Homo sapiens: one gene and its partner. The protein of the gene in region 2 purifies or fractionates together with the protein of the main gene of each other region. This does not show direct contact. Each region holds a gene or a part of one and is shown on either strand. Other genes may lie near its edges.

Region 1 (2,865 bases), on a different chromosome or scaffold from region 2:
TCTGCAGTAGGGGACCCAGAGTCCCAGGCCCCTGGAGTTGTTTTCGGCAGGGGCCTTGTCTCTCACTGCATTTGGTCAGGGGGGCATGAATAAAGGCTACAGGCTCCAACGTGTGTGGCAGCTTTCGGTCTTTCCCTCTGGGTGCTTGGTGTCCCATCTCTTTTCATGTCCAAGTTGCTTGCCAGCCTGGCCCCCTGTCTACAAAGCAGGCCAGTGGCCAGCAGGGTGGAGTCTTAGAGCAAAGGATGAGGTCATGCCTGGCTCTGGGCCAAGGAGGCGGGTGAAGGGAGTGGTCTGTAGCAGGGGGCTAAACTTAGAAACCTGTGGGTGGCTTCCCTGCCACCTCCCACTGGGTTTCCTCCCCCGAGTGTGGGGGCTGGGTTCCTCTCCAGCTGGGAGGGGATGTGACCCTCAGCAGGGCTGAAAGTCCCACCCTTCCCTACAGGGTCAGCTTAGGGGCTCAGGAAGCTGGGGCCAGGCAGAGGAGACATTATCAAGGCTTTTGCATAGAACAAGATTTTGTTTTCAGAGTTTTCTTCCTTCCCCTTCCCCCAATTGTTAGCAGCTTGATGTGTCATTCTCCCCAGCAGGGGAGGGGGTGGAATGGCTTGGGTTGTAAACTCCCTCCCCCAGCCTTCCTGTCCCTTGGAGGGGCAGTTCAGCTGGGTTCTGGTTCAGGGTCAGGCAGGCAGTTAAGGCTTGGCTGGTGCGAGAAGGCTGGGTGCTGTGTCTTCAGAGCTCATTCCTCCACTCTGGCTCCACTTGCAGAGACAGGCCCCCTTCACCCTCCCGCTCCTGGGGGAGGTAGTCATGGCTGTGGGGCCCTGGAAAGAGAGAAAGTACACTGTGTCTTCCTTACCACCTCCTCTGGCACTGTCCCCACCCTGGCCCAGCCATACCTGAGGTAGAGGGGCTGAGCTTGCTCAGACCTTGCAGTAAATTCTGTCCCTGTTGCAGGTCCAGTTTGGCAGGGAAGGGACACCCGGTATACCCTCCGTTTTCTTTACAGAACTCCAGGAATCTGTGGGGTACAGAGGAGTGCCAGCAGAGACTGGAGGCTAAGCCACGGTCCTGTCCCATCTGAGCTGTACTTGCTCAACCTCTGGATGTCATTTAACTTATAAATACAATAGTGATGCTGTGAAAATGGACACATCTGAGGATTAACTGAGCGATAAGCAAGCGCTTAAAAAAGATCCACCTGCCCTAGGCAGGGGCTGTGGCCACTAAGAGGGAGAATGGGGTGGGAATGCTCACACTTTCCAGTCAGGGTCATGGCCCAGGAGAAGGGGGTTCCCCACGATGATGAGCAGGGCCTTGGCCCGGGTCACAGCTACATTGAACCTCTGGAAGGAAGAAGTGGTGTGGTCATGGGAGGGAAGAGCCCCGAGAATGGAAGAATTCCTGCCACCCCGACCAGCCCTCAAACCTTGGGGTTCTTAAGGAAACCCAGATTAAAGTCCAGATCCAGCTGCACAAAGCTCTGGCTGCTTCGCACGGTGGAGATGAGGATGACGCTTCGTTCTTGGCCTTGGAATTCTTCTACTGAACCCACCTAGTGGGGAAAGAGGCAGGGCCTGAGACCAGCCAGGGGTGTCAAAGGGGTGCCCTACCCCAGGGAGCTTGCCTTCCAAGGAGGGTACAGAGAGGTCACTGGGCAATTGTAGATCAGTGAGTGAACCAGTGCTGCGACACGGCCCAGGGAAAGGGGATGGGAGGTAGGCTGTGGAAGCTGAAACATGAAGGTTGAATCCTGCTGAGGGCTGGGGCCTGCAAAGTGTTCTAAGGAAAGAAAACAGCATTGCAAAGAACACGGGAACTCAGAGCAGTGACTTTCAAACTTTCCTGAAAACAATCACTAAGTATCTGTTAAGAATATACAACCCTGGGCCCTAACCCGGACCCCCGATCAGAATTTCCAAGAGAGAGGCCTGTAAGTCTTAGAGCAGTGTTTTCAACCCTGGCTGCATATTAGAATCACCTGAGAAGCTGTAAAAACTACCAGTGCCCTGGCTCTGCCCCGATAGCTGTATGAGCTGGTGGGTGGGGCCCTGGCATGGGGGCGGGGTATTAAAAGCTCTCCAGGTGATTGTTATCTGCAGCCAGTGTTGAGACCAGAACCTTAAGAGAGAGGCTACTGGGGGTGGGGGTGGCAGCATCACATGACAGGCCACGGAATTTGGACTTTATCCTTAGGGCAGAGGCCTCAAACCTGCCTCAGTCTAAGAATGACAGGAGGTGTTTGTTAAACATGCAGGCTTCCTGATCCCATCCCAGACCCTTAAGTTGGAATCTCCAGGAGTGAGAGGCTCAGGGAGAGCTCGAGCTCTATTCAAGGCAGCAGGGGTGGGACGGGGACGTGGGCTGGAGTGGAAGCTTGAGGAAGTCTCTGGAAGTGGGCAAGTGGGGGCACACGGAAGGCAGGGAGTGACTGTGGAACAGCATGTCACCTTCAAGTCCTTGATGTCATCCAGTCCTCGAAGCTCCCTGTCAAGTTTGGTGATGCAGTAACGGATTTTCTCCACCTGGAAGGAGGGGACAGGTGCCTTTCTCTCGTGCCATTAACCTAATGCAAGAGGGAGCCTGGCAGGAGGCCAGGGAGCTGGGGAACAAAGGGAGGCGGCAGCTGACCTTGGTGCTCTTCTGAGATACGGAGCCAGCAGAGGCCTAAGCTCCTGGAGCCTCTGCCTAGTGGTCTGGATATTAAGGAGGTACCATCTGGGGGAGGGGCCCCACCCTTGCTGGTAACTGAGGACCTGACCTGTTTCCGGTACGGGGAGATGACGCCCACACTTCGAGGGCTCAGGCGAGCTTTGCCCTTCTTGGAGGAGGGGGCCAGGAGCAGCTTCAGGTAGGAAGTCACTG
Region 2 (5,825 bases):
ACCTGTAATCCCAGCACTTTGGGAGGCTGAGGCAGGCAGATCACGAGGTCAGGAGTTCAAGACCAGCCTGGCCAATATGGTGAAACCCTGTCTCTACTAGGAAAAAAAAAAAAAAAAAATTAGCTGGGCCTGGTGGCACACATGTGTAGTCCCAGCTACTCGGGAGGCTGAAGCAGAAAAATCGCTCGAACCCAGGAGGCGGAAGTTGCAGTGAGCCGAGAGCGTGCCACTGCACTCCAGCCTGGGTAACAGAGCGAGGCTCTGTCAAAAAAAAAAAATAAAAATAAAAATAAAAAATAAAAAAGCAATGGCGCTGTTGTAAATTTAATTTACCGTCTCGTTCTCCAGATTCACTGGAAAATAACCCCCATCAAACTTCTGTTGAATGAGTGGGCTTTCCCCCTAGCAGTAATTATTCATGAATATACTTATTTGGCTCCACAATGTACATTTAACTTCAAGCATCCAACTAGTTTTTGCATAGGCCAAATACAGAGGTCGTGAGTTATAATTTATTTTCCTATACTTCAATGGCTCGACTCTTGGCCTAAGCAAGCACTAAATAGACTAATAACTACCCACCCATGTCAACTGACTGCATGGCTGGCTCCCAAGTGAAGGCATGGTAGAATAGGGAGGGAACGGCAGCCACCATGCAAGAGGAGAGTCCTCCTTGGTTGGAGCCCATGCGACCTGAGAAAGAGGCATTAAAAAATGAATAAATAACCCAGTGACACCCTCCGCCCCAGTCAGTGCAGCCACAGGAGATAGGGTGAATTCAATCCAAATGGTTATTTATTCTAAAACTGGAAGCTACTTTGCCTACATTTTCGCCAGAATGGTGTAATGAGAACAGGGGAGGAAAAAGTTACAGATGTAAACAATGACACAGTTACATTTTTTTTTTAAATGGTAAAACCCCTTTTTACTGGCCACTTCCAAGAATGCTTTACAGGTTGTGCAAAAACATTTACAGGCTCCATGTGGTGTTTTTCTCACAAGCTTTCCTGTCTACAACTACAACAGACGTCTGATAAAACACTAAACAAGTCTTCTAAGGAAAACAAGGCTAGGGATTCCTCTGGTTACCATAATCCACATTTTCCCCCTTAACATAGTTTTTCATAATAAAAAGACAGAAACAAAACCCGGACATCTACTGTTGTTGCAAATGATCTCTTGGACTAAACCAACAAGGATGTGGCAGTTTCACTTTCCACCCACCTAGAAAAACAGTTTTGTAAAAAAGATTACTTTCTAGTGTCAAATATCAACAGCGAGTACCTCCCCTAACCCCTGCTGGAAAAAAACTCAACTTGATTTAGTTTAGTCCCCTTGCCCCTAAGGGCCCTAGCATCCCCATCCATGTCACAGACTACAAGAAAGATGCTATTTGCAGGACTAAACATCTGAAAAGGGGTGGCAGCCACTGCCTCAGGAAATTCAATTTTCTATTATAACATAATCTTGCCCTAAGGGAATTTCTTTGGGCTCCAGTTTTTACCTCCTTGCCTTGACATTATAAGCAAAGCTTTCTCAAACTCCCTTAATAATAATACAAAGTTAATGTGTTACAGAAAAATTCATGCAATCACTCCACTGCCACACAGAAATCCATTTGAGGACACCGCAGGGAAGCAGGTGCCAAGAGAAAGGACATGACTATGAGTAAGCAAACTTATCTCCTACCAGCCCCATTCCAGCCTTGGGGTCAGAGGTATTTGGGCGGAAGGGTGTGTCATGACAGACAAGGACACTAGAGGCCAGAATAAGGGTCTGTACACCTGAACAAGGGCTGCAGGGCAGTAACAGTGGGAGGAGGAGAGGAAGACCAAATCAGCCCACAATTTTAAACAGAGAACTGCCCAGGTGAGGAAATGGAAGTGAAGCATTTTCTAGTGGCACAGATTTTCTCACTAGGAACTGCTGCAGTATGTGGTGTCTGCTGAGTAAGCTCTTGGCTGACAGTGCTGAGCAGGAGGATGAATGAAAACTGAAGCTAGACATTGAAAGAGCATTCCATATCCCACCCATATTCTTGAACCCAGCAACCTACAGCTGTCTATCAAGAACTGGGAGGGTATTGGTAAAGTCACAAATGAAACTATCCCAACTGAAGGCTCCTGGCTAGAGGCCTCTCTGGGGACACACAGGGAAAGCGCCCCAAAAGGAATTTTGTTTCTAGAAGTCGGGAAGGGGTGCTCCCTTTCACACGCACATTTACACACGTTCACACTCACACTCTTCCCAAGGTTCAGCAGCCCCACTGAGCTGCCTCCCACCCCCCCCCACCACCCTCCCCTCTTCTATTCATTCTCTACCTGTGTATCAAAAAAACCAGCAGGGCACGAGCCCTCCACACTGTAGAAAATAGTTGCTAGTTGCTATTCTCAGCACCTGGGCCTGTGAGCCCACACCACAGGATTCACCTATATACATATCCCGCTGCAGTGAAAAGAATCCTGCTGTGTTTTCGTGTGAGCTGAAACCCTGAGAAACGTTCCTTCTCTCGCACTGTAAGAGGACAGACACTCTAACAGGGATGATTTCAGAGACCTCCCACCTCTCTCAACCTTGGAAGACAGAGACTAGAGACTGGCAAATCACAATCTTTAGGCTGAGGGCTGCAATCCCATTCTCCCCAAGATTTTACAGGAATTAATCAATGGGTCTATAGAAGGGGCAGGCTATTCTGCTCTGCCATCAAGGACAGTCCCCAGGCTTTCTTGGCCTGGGAATCCTGTAAAATAGAACCACCCACTGGCAGTCTCCATGCCTCAGCCAAACAGCACAAAGGCACAGGAAAATGGAGAGTTGGGACACTGTAAGCCTCCCAGCCCACCAGACCACATATCCCAAAAGGGAAAGGTCGGTAAAGAAAATACAAACGGTTAGTTGGTGCAAGTGATTGATAAGAGCCAATCGTTTATTTTCACTGTCCCAGTCACAAGCTCTCCCTCTGTCCCCACTCCTGCCTGCTCCTACCTGCTGTGGAGAGCACCCTCGCGCTGCCTCCCCACCCTCCCCACACCACCTCATCACTCTCCTTTACTTGGCTGCCAGTCCAGCTGCCTCAGAATGTCAGAAGGGTGCCATTTTCAGTTCTTTTCCTGTCTGACTGTAGGGTATAGAACAGGCAGCCCTAAGTGCTGCTTTCTGCGCAAATGTTTTTTGATTACAAATCTCTAACTAGGTTTGAAATGTTTTATAGAATAAGACAATATTCTTTTCAACAAACTTTAAAAAAAATGTACAGTTTTGTTGTTTGTTTCCACCTCCCCCCTCCCCCACCCCTGCTTGAGCACCCTCCCCCCCCACCACCCCTCCCCGGCAGCTCAGCCCCACCCCGACAGCCCCTGTTTTCCTTGGTTGTGTTTTGCGGGGGTGCCTGGCACCCCCAGAGATTCAGCTTCATGGCTGACAGGTGACCATGGCAGGGGCTTCACCGATACCCTTGGTACCCGTAGTAATTCCTGTAGTATCGGTCTCTGTCCTGGGGGTGGTGGTAGTAGTAACTCTGCCACTAGAAGAGAGGGAAACCCCATCACTTGGAGCCAGAGCTGGCTGAGGATGAAGAGGCATAACACTCATCCTTCTGCTCCTGCCCCCCTTCACCCTGTGTCTATCCCAAGAAGATACTCACATCCCGATTGTATTGTCTGTAATAGTCTCTGTATCTGTTGTACTCATAATCTCGCCCGTAAAATCGATCATAGTCTCCCCTGTATCGATCATAGAAATTACGGTAACCCTGAGAAAGGAAAAGAAAAAGGAGTGAAGGTTTATGGGTTTTTGGCAGCATGACCCACCGTGACCCCCTTTTAAATGCGACACATCTTAGCTCGATATTATAAATTGGTTTAATTTTCCCATAGTAAATCTTCCAGAACATATTAAATGGGCAAAACCCTAAGCCCTAAGAAAACAGGCAAACCACTCTGCTCCCCCAAGCCAACAGAATGGCTCTCACAGCCCAGAGTGAGGAGCAGAAGGAGAGCTGCACTCACCCCTCTGTTTCCAGGCTGCCCCCAGTACTGCTGCCCGTAGGCCCGGTTGTCGTAGCCTCGGCGCTGCCCGCCCACTGGAAGAGAAATGGAGAGCGCGCTCAGACAGCTGGCATGGGGTCCTGGCTCCACATCTGGGTGGAAATCAAAAACTTGGAGCCAAAGGCAATTCTGGGGGAATATGAGGCCTGCTTCGGCCAGGCTCACACATGTTAATTAAAGCACCAGCCAGGAACTTTTAAAAAGTCTGAGGGGGGAGGGCAGAGGAACAGAGACACAAGAAAACCAAGCCACTTTGTTTTTGAAGCTCCCCAATTCCTGCAAAACATTTAAGATGGCAAAAGGATACATGGCAGAGTTAGAAACATAAGGAAAAACTGCCATTCATAGAATCAGACTTTCAGCCCTGGAAGGGATTTCAGATATCGTATAACCCATACCTATCATTTTATGCAAAAGAAACAAAGTCTCTGTAATCAGCTCCTCAAGGGCGGGAACTGTCAGCATTTACAGTACCTAGCACATAGCAGGCACTCGGAAATTCTGCTGACTTAACAGTTACACACACACATACACACACATTTTTAAAGAGCAGTGAATGCACACTGGGGTTTTAACTGACAAACTAGACATTCAGGGGGAAAATTAATTCTACTAATAGCCTAACTTGCTTGGTTAAGTTCTTCCCCCCACAAAAAACACTGAATAAAGCATTCGCTTTCTTGTTAATCGAAATGACACAGAAGCAAGAAAACTGAAGATGAGAATTTGATTTCACTGCACAAATCCTTCAGATAAGACAGGAACAGTGACACTGGGAACCCATATGTTAAAATGAAAACTAGATAGATGAGAAAGCCCAAGCATTGCTTTTCAAAGAAACAAATACTTTTGTGAAAAGTAACTCTTTTTTAAAAAAGAGGATTTTTGTTGTTGTTGAAGAATTATGGAAAAAGCACAAGAAAAAGGCAGGGATAAAGAACACAGGAAGAAATAAGCTCCATGAAGAAGGCACTTCCGTATTGTTAATGACCTGACTTGGTTTCCTTGGCCTTCCCTTGCACATCTTGCTGTACTAAGCACAAAGAATGGACTGAAGTAGGGGGCTGGCAGGTCCCCAAGACTCACCATAGCCTTGGCCCCGGCTTCGGTTCTGCCGGTTACGCTTGTTTCGGTTGTTTCGGCGATTTGTCCGCTTCTCGGAGGGGGGCAGAAGCTTCCTTGCCTCCTCCTTGTACTTAGTGACAATGGGCTGAGCTTCCTCCTTCTCCAGCTCCCCATATGTCACCTCATCCATATAGTCGCATTTTTCAGGCAAAGAGAAGTTGGCTATAAGAGTAAGAGAGAAGCTTGTGGGCCTGAAAAGTGCATAGATGGGTAAGAACTCATTATGAAAACTCTACAAGAAGCATATGACTTTCTATGCCTCATCTATTACTGCACAAAAATGTGCTACGTTTATACCCACTCGCATCTAAATAATGACATTAACTTTTTCTACTCTAAGTTTTCCCTAAATTGTAACAGACCCAGGCAAAGGGCTATGTAGATTTACAAGTTCTTAAGTGATCTATAATAAATTAGGAGTGAACTGGGTTAAAGTTTCTCATCAGGACAGAAGCAGGTAACCAGAGGCTAAAAGTAACTGAGAAAGTTCTGGTGTTGGTCAGATAAGATGCTAAGAAATAACATTTTAAAAAGAGACTCAGAGATGGCCGGGCATGGTGGCTCACGCCTGTAATCCCAGCATTTTGGGAGGCCAAGGCAGGCGGACTGCTTGAGGTCAGGAGTTCGAGACCAGCCTGGCCAACATGGTGAAAC

What was found.
Region 1: the proteins of HNRNPUL2 (region 2) and MOV10 purify together in Homo sapiens (affinity purification with mass spectrometry; 2 studies listed by BioGRID and IntAct, with this or other methods). This does not show direct contact.

What each region holds. Positions count from the first base shown.
Region 1 is NC_000001.11:112,698,375-112,701,239, reverse strand, and holds the end of MOV10 (helicase MOV-10), read right to left. Parts: coding exon 2,762-2,865; intron 2,603-2,761; coding exon of another isoform or gene 2,567-2,602; exon of another isoform or gene 2,526-2,566; coding exon 2,451-2,525; exon of another isoform or gene 2,427-2,450; intron 1,783-2,426; coding exon of another isoform or gene 1,669-1,782; exon of another isoform or gene 1,556-1,668; coding exon 1,430-1,555; intron 1,347-1,429; coding exon 1,258-1,346; intron 1,022-1,257; coding exon 900-1,021; intron 825-899; coding exon 733-824; 3' UTR 501-732; downstream 1-500.
Region 2 is NC_000011.10:62,711,857-62,717,681, forward strand, and holds the end of HNRNPUL2 (heterogeneous nuclear ribonucleoprotein U-like protein 2), read right to left. Parts: intron 5,334-5,825; coding exon 5,133-5,333; intron 4,082-5,132; coding exon 4,008-4,081; intron 3,752-4,007; coding exon 3,644-3,751; intron 3,524-3,643; coding exon 3,443-3,523; 3' UTR 774-3,442; downstream 1-773.